Homo sapiens: one gene and its partner. The main gene of each other region encodes a partner of the protein of the gene in region 2 in a complex. Each region holds a gene or a part of one and is shown on either strand. Other genes may lie near its edges. The genes, in order: DPF1 and SMARCA4.

What was found.
Region 1: SMARCA4 (region 2) and DPF1 share a complex: the UniProt entries of both Homo sapiens proteins name them as parts of the neuron-specific chromatin remodeling complex.

What each region holds. Positions count from the first base shown.
Region 1 is NC_000019.10:38,214,189-38,217,995, forward strand, and holds part of DPF1 (zinc finger protein neuro-d4), read right to left. Parts: intron 3,689-3,807; coding exon 3,610-3,688; intron 3,404-3,609; coding exon 3,272-3,403; intron 2,216-3,271; coding exon 2,165-2,215; intron 2,072-2,164; coding exon 1,952-2,071; intron 1-1,951. UniProt on the Homo sapiens protein: May have an important role in developing neurons by participating in regulation of cell survival, possibly as a neurospecific transcription factor. Belongs to the neuron-specific chromatin remodeling complex (nBAF complex).
Region 2 is NC_000019.10:11,026,733-11,030,539, reverse strand, and holds part of SMARCA4 (SWI/SNF-related matrix-associated actin-dependent regulator of chromatin subfamily A member 4), read right to left. Parts: intron 2,757-3,807; coding exon 2,590-2,756; intron 1-2,589. UniProt on the Homo sapiens protein: ATPase involved in transcriptional activation and repression of select genes by chromatin remodeling (alteration of DNA-nucleosome topology).

The DNA of each region.
Region 1 (3,807 bases), about 27 Mb from region 2:
ACCTTCCACAACGGGGTCCCCACACTTCGGTTTCATGCAACTGAAGTCCATTCCACTTGGTGCCCCAGCAACAAAACTGTTACTCACATCACAGCACTGTGCAGCGCCAGGCTTAGTCATTCCACAGCCCCGCTGCAGAGACACCCGCAGCCGCTACCTGCAGCCACGACCCATGGCGCCCGCCCCCTGCAACCACGGCCCCGGTGCCATCACAACTACATTCCATTATACTGAGTTGCCATGACAACCATATTTCACTACCCATGATGCCACGACAACCACAATTCATGACCTACTGTGCTGAGGCAACCAGAGTCTATATTGCCCACAAGCCCACCATGGGAAACCACATTCTGTTAACCACAACTCTATGGCGAGCTCATCCTGCTACCGGTGCCCAGGTGGTGGTGTCCGTCACTCACACCACACAGCCCACTACCTGCCATGCCTTGGCCCCTGTCTCTTGCTACTCCTTTTGTCTTGTTTTGGTTTTTGAAACAAGGTCTCACTCTGTTGCCCAGGCTGCAGCATAGTGGCACCATCACAGTGCACTCTGCAGCCTTGACCTCCCAGGCTCCAGCGATCCTCCCACCTCAGCCTCCCGAGTAGCTGGGACTAATGGGGTGCGAAACTATGCCCAGCCTTTTTTTTTTTTTTTTTTTTTTGAGACGGAGTCTTGCTCTGATACCCAGGGTGGAGTGCAGTGGTGCAATCTTGGCTCATGGCAACCTCTGAGCCCCGGGTTCAAGCGATTCTCCTGCCTCAGCCTCCGGAGTAGCTGGAACTACAGGCACGCACCACCACACCCAGCTAAATTTTGTATTTTTATAGAGATGGGGTTTCACCATGTTGGCCAGGATGGTCTTGATCTCTTGACCTCATGATCTGCTCGCCCCAGCCTCCCAAAGTGCTGGGATTACAGATGTGAGCCACATCACCCAGCCTGGCCTATTTTTTTTTTAATAGATGGGCTCTCATTATGTTGCCCTGGCTAGTCAAAAACTCCCAGATTCAAGGGGCTGGGTGCTGCGGTGGCTCACGCCTGTAATCCCAGCACTTTGGGAGGTCAAGGCAGGCAGATCACCTGAGGTCAGGAGTTTGAGACCAGCCTGGCCAACATGGTGAAACCCCCGTCTCTACTAAAAATATTAAAAATTAGCCAGGCATGGTGGCGGGTGCCTGTAATCCTAGCTACTCGGGAGGCTGAAGCACAAGAATCACTTGAACCCAGGAGGCGGAGGTTGCAGTGAGCCAAGATCATGCCAATGCACTCCAGCCTGGGTGACAGAGGGAGACTCTGTCTCAAAAAACAAAACAAAACAAAACAAAACAAAAACCTTCTGGGCTCAAGCGAGCCTCCCACTTCAGCCTCCCGAGTAGCTGGGGCTAATGGGGTGCAACACCATGCCCAGCTAACTTTTTTTATATATAGATGGGATCTCACTATGTTGCCCAGGCTGGTCTCAAACTCCTGGGCTCAAGGGAGCCTCCGGCCTCAGCCTCCTGAGTTGCTGGGATTACAGGTGCACAACAACACACCTGGATAATTTTTAAATTTTTTGTAGAGATGGGGGTCTTGCTATGTTGCTCAGGCTGGTCTCAAATTCCTGGCCTCAAGTGATCCTCCCACCTCTGCCTCCCAAAGTGCTGGGATTACAGGCGTGAGCCACCACACCTGGCCTCTCACTACTCTTGATGCCATGCTAAGCACAGGCAGCTACCCACAGTGCCATGAGAGCCACATCCCATTATCCCTAAAGCCTCACTGATCCGACCCAATTCCCACAATCCTCAGCAGTTGCATCAGCCTCGCTAGCTCTGGTTATCCACAGTATCCCCTACATGCTCCGGGTCCCCTCGGTCCTCACCGCCTTGCCTCCCTCCCTCCAGGTCTGCACTCCTGAATGTCCTCTGCACCCGGCCCCCAGAAACCTCAGGTGGGGAGCATCACCTGATCGCCCACAGTCCGCACAGGAGATGAGGTCCTCGGGACACCCCGTCTTCTTGGAGCCCCCCAGGCAGAAGTCACAGTAGCCGTTGGGGATGACAGTGCCGTCGGGCGCCTTCTTGGCTGCAAGACAGCAGACAGGCATTGGCACGGGGCAGGCAAGGGCACCCCGCAAAGGTGGCTGCAGACTTTAGGAGCAGAAGGAGGCATCCGTACCTGTGTGTTTCCTTTGTGCCTCAGGGACCCAGGCCAATTCTTTGTAAAACTCTGGGGTAGGGGGGACAGAGAGAGGGACTCTCACCACAGGCAAGGCTCCACCCTGCCCCCAGCCTCAGCCCCAAGGATGGACCTCTTAGTCCAGGCGTGGGGAGCTGGGAAGAGTGAGTAGCTACCCCAAGCTGTGGGGAGAGGTGAAAACAGTTCTCATCGGGACTCCCAACTCTGCCTTTTTAAATTTTTTTTTCAATTAAAAATAAAGGCAGGGTCTTGGTATGTTGCCCAGGCTGGTCTCCAACTCCTGGCCTCCAGTGATCCTCCCACCTCGGCCACTGCCACAAAGTGGCGGGATTATAAGCGTGAGCCACTGCACCCAGCCAGGATTCCCAACTCCTTGAGACAACTGACATGTCCTCTTTATTGGGTCAAAACTTGGTAGACAGCTTGAGGAAGGGCTCCCTGCCTCCCTTCTCACATACATGTCTCCCAGCCAGCCACTCCCAACTGCACCCTCAGTAATTTGTATCTAACAAATTCAGCGAGTACCCCAGCCAAGATCTGGTATGGAAACAGACACTCGGAAGAAAAACTCCGAACACTGAGGTGCGTGGGTGTGTAGTGGCCAGGGGTGAAGACACTCAGCCTCTGCCTCTGAGAGATAGGTGGGAAGACAGTGTCTCCCTACTGCCTCTCCCAAACCCTCCTCCCCTCCCCCATCCTTCAGCTGTCAGAACTGGCATGGGATTGGCAAGGGCGGAAGCCAAGGGCTCCCAGGCCACAGACCCTGCCCCTTGACCAAAGCTTAGCAGAGAAAGGAGAAAGGGAAGGCAGGGCGGGAGGGGAGCCATCTATCACCCCCCCTCCCCAAGCTCTAATTGAAACAATAAATCAGACCCAGAAATATTACGCCCGGCCAGGAGCGAAGGAGCGATGGTTGGTTGCCATGGCAACCCCGGAGCCAGCATCCCCATGGTCGGTGGGGGGAGGGAACGGCTGAGCTGGAGATTTTCCAGAAATGTCTAATGCCCCCCCACCCCCACCCCCAGCTGGGCTCCTCTTCCCCACTCCCAGGGCCCCTGGCCACCCCCACCTGGCCTGCCAGCTCACGTTTATGGTTGTTTTTCCGGTGGAAGGGCAGGGCGTGGCGTTCGGCGTTCTCCTCCCCCTCCTCCTCGGCCAGGTGGGTGTGGGTGTAGTGGTAGCTGAGCCCCGGCCGGTTCTTATACCGTTTCCCACAGACTGGGGAGCGAGCGAGCCAGGAGGGCCTGTCAGCCCCTCCGGGCCCCTGCCGCCTCCACCCTGGCCTCCAGGATCACACCTCCCCCCTCAGCCAGAGACCTGAGCAGCCTCCCAACCCGGGTCTGGAACGGGAGGGAGAGGGCCACGAGGTGGGGAGTCTCTGGGCACCCCTCTCTCTGCCTTTCCCCCTCTTCAGAAGGACTCACTATCACAGACATACGGCTTGTCTCGGTCCTCCAGGGAAGCGGTGTCCTGGCGTTTCCGGAGACCCCCGATGCCATATGCCTGTGGGGAGAGTCAGGAGTGAGGGGCCAAGAAAGTGAGAAAACAGGCCAGGCGTGGTGGCTCACACCTGTAATCCCAGCACTTTGGGAGGCCGAGGCAGGCGGATCACGAGGTCAAGA
Region 2 (3,807 bases):
AAAACGTCTCTCCACACATCCCAGAAATGAAAACAGGCCCCGCTGGGAGAACTAGAGGAGGTGGGCCTGGAGCACAGAGTCCAGCACCCAGCCCACAGCTAGGCCACAGCGTCCAGCGTCAGCACAGCCACCACCACCACAGCCCTGGATTCTCTCCTCTACTCTACCCTGTGCCATTCCATGGGGAGCGGAAGACACAGCGGCCAATGCCGGCAACACCGCCGCTCGCAACACAAGGGACCTGGGGGTGGGTGGACAGTGACTGTGGGTGCACCTGCCTTCAGCCCTGTCTCAAAAAGTTTTGTGGTTCACAAAGAGAATCTTCTACGGTAAAAGCATGGAGACCTTATAAAGGGGGCTCGTGTCCTTTCTGGCAGGATCAGTGTCCCCATGCCCCAGAAAACCCAAGTCAAGGAGCCAGAGCAGGTCTCCTGGGTGACAACCCACGATGCCCTCAGCGTTGTGGGCATTAAGGCAATGTCAACACTCCCTGCGCTGCTGGGAGTTCGGACAGAGGTGCCCCTGAACACTGAAGTCATTTTGGTGATGAAATAAAAACTGGCAGGCCGGGCGCGGTGACTCATGCCTGTAATCCCAACACTTTGGGAGGCTGAGGTGGGTGGATCGCCTGAGGACAGGAGTTCGAGACCAGCCTGGCCAACATGGTGAAACCCCGTCTCTACTAAAAATACAAGAAAATTAGCTGGGCGTAGTGGCGGGCGCCTGTAATCCCAGATACCAGGGAGGATGAGGCAGGAGAATCGCTTGAATCCAGGCGGCGGAGGTTGCAGTGAGCTGAGATCATGCCACTGCACTCCAGCCTGGGCAACAAGAGTGAAACTCCGTCTCAAAAAAAAGAAGAAATAAAAACTGGCCATTTCCTGCCACCAGCCTACACATGCCCAGGCACGGTGCAGAAGCCCACAGTAGCCTGGCCATCCACCTGCCGTCCCACCCTCTCTCAGGCACCAGATGTGCCCCTGCTACTCCAGCTCGGAGGAGGGGCTGAGGTGAGGGGCCACCCGGCTCCCAGATGCCAGCCCACCCATGGGAGATGCAGTCTCAGGAGACTTCACTGAGCTCCTACCCTTCCTCTACTCGCAATGGATTCTCTGGCCCTGTGGCCATGACCACATCACATGCAGAGGACACATCTGTAGTTCAACTGACCAAAGTCCTTGTCCTTATGGAGTAGGCAGAAGGGCACTGGGATGGGTGGGAACCAGGCTCTCTCCTGGGGGAGTCAGGGACACGACACAGACGGGATGGCCCTCAGGAAGCCTTGGCCCTCTCGAGGACGGGAGAAGCCGCTGGAGAGACCGTAGGAGAGGAAAGGGTGGGGGGTGGCCCGGCCATGAGGACCCTGAAGGATTTTGGTTTTCAGCCTCAAAGCTGAAAGTGGGAAGCCCCCAAGGAAGAAGGCAAGCCGGGGAGACCCCTGCAACAGACTCGTGTCTGTAGAGTGGTCCTGGACAGAACCCCGGGGAGGACCTGCAGTTTGGAGGGACACACAGGGCACACTCCGGGTGGCACCTGGGCAGGTTGGCCCAGCAAACACAGGTCCAAGTGATCAACGGGACAAGGGGTATGGAGGTCTGGGGTGTCCTGCTGTGAGACAGACCTTGCACAGGAGCTTCAACAAAGGCTCTGGGAGGTCGTGTAGGGAACAACAAACTGGCTGAGCCGTGTCTGTCTCAGCAGCTCATGCTCGTGTTTCTCGTAAGCCCAGTTCTAGTAACTCCCACGAAGAACTCACTCCAGGGCTCCCTGACCCACTGGGACTGACAGACATGTCTCACGTGCCCTGTCGGCATCTCACAGCCTCTCCTCCCTGAGCTCCCGTGTGCTGGGGCAGGCAGGCGCAGAAACACAGGCGGTGACCTTTCCCATCAGGGACCGCAGGGCAGGGGGTTGGGCTGAGAGCCTCTCTACGGCAGCTGCTGCTCCTGCCTGGCAGTGCTTGCTTCCCTCCCTCCGTGCTCACCACAGAGTCTGATTCCAGGTCCAGGCCTGACCTGTGGCAAGGTGGCAGTCACTGGGCTGCTACGAATGGCCCAGGGATGGGCATGCGGCTCACAGCAGCTAAATGAGAGCCAGCCTGGGACCTGCCTTTGTTGGGGACACTGAGCAGGTGGAAAGGAAGCCAAGATGGAAGAAGGCAGAGCAAAGAGCTGGAGAAAAGTCTCTCCAATATCACCTGCATGCCTGGATCCAGCTGTGCCTGAAGGATGTTTAACCTCCTGGGGTTAGAGCTATGTAAGCCTATTGGTGCTTTCTTTCCTGTGTCCACATGGTATGGAATTCTGTCACTTCCAGCTAAAAGTGCACAGGGCACCCCTTCCCCAGTGCGCCCAGCATTGTCGTGGAAAGACTGTCAGCCTAGGAGTCAGGACACCCGGCGTCCAATCCACGGCCTGTCCCAGTGCCGAGTGCCCAAGATGCTCAGCCTGTGGCTAGGCCCACTCTGGCCACTGGACCCAGAGCGCCTGGGCCTCACCCTGCCTCACAGGAGGGAATGCCAGTGAGGAGCTTCTGTGGCAGCCACAACAACAAAACCCTGTAAGAAACGCCTCACTGGCTCATACTCACCATCAAGCCTGAGGTATTTAAAGCCGCGATACGCAAAGTAATCTTCCATGATGGTCATGAGGGAGGTCATTTGGCAGAACAGCAGCACTTTGTGGTTGGTTGCTCGGAGTTTGGGAAGAATTCTATCAAGAAGCTCAAATTTACCCGAGGCTCGGTACAGGTCCAGCCTGGAGTGTGGAGGAGGCAGGAGAGAAGGCGCAGGATGTTAAACCTGGAACCCTGCAGGCAGGTAAGGCAGGAGGTGCATCGCCCGCCTCCAGGCCAGGCGCCGGGTTCAAGGGCACAGACATGCATCCTAAGCAGACGTCACCCACCCAAAGCTTCAGCAAAGCCATTTCCCCCAACTGAAATAAGCCCGGCCACCCTCGCTGGGGAGGCGTATCACCAGGGTGGCACATGTATTTCTCGTCAAACCCAGACACTCATGAAAATGAGAGGAGCTGTGAGTCACATGGCCGGCACAACACGGGGCTGGAACAGGGATGCTCCGGGAAGCCAGACCTTGTCCCCTTGCCCGATAAAGAAGCCCCAGGAGCAAATGCCACACTGGAGACACCCATGCTCTGCTAGACCCAGAAGGAAGGGCCACCTCGGCTTCTCATGTTCTCTCCAGCCAAACCCCAAGTGTTGTAGATGTGGACACTGAGGCTGGCAGGGGGACGACGTGATATGGCTGACCACATGTCCAAGCCAGGCCTCCCAGCCTTGAAGCCAGGTGTACAGGACCCTGTTCCACAACTCAGTATAAAAAAACACATCAAAAAGAATTTGTGATGTTTTCATTAGGCGCCTCTCTTCTTGCAAATGGCTTACTACCCCAGGGGAATTGAATGGAGGCTTTAGCTGGAAGAATGCTTTTAGCAAGGTTCTTTGCAATGGTGAAAATCTAGACACAGCATCCACATCCATTAGGGGCTTAAAGGAGTCTGGGCTGCCCCTTACAAAGGGTGCTATAGAAAACACCCACATGATGTAAAGAGTGCCTCTGTACTAGTGAGCAGAGTTTAGGCTCAGAGAGGTTAAGAAAGCTGTCTAGAGTCACAGAGCTTGGAGGCGGCAGAGTGGGATCTGTAAGCCAGGTCTGCCTCAGGAATCCTGTCTCTTGGGGTTAATAGTGGTCAGCTCTCCAAGCACTAAAGATTTGTATAATGGGGCCGGGCGCGGTGGCTCACACCTGTAATTCCAGCACTTTGGGAGGCCAAGGCGGGTGGATCACTT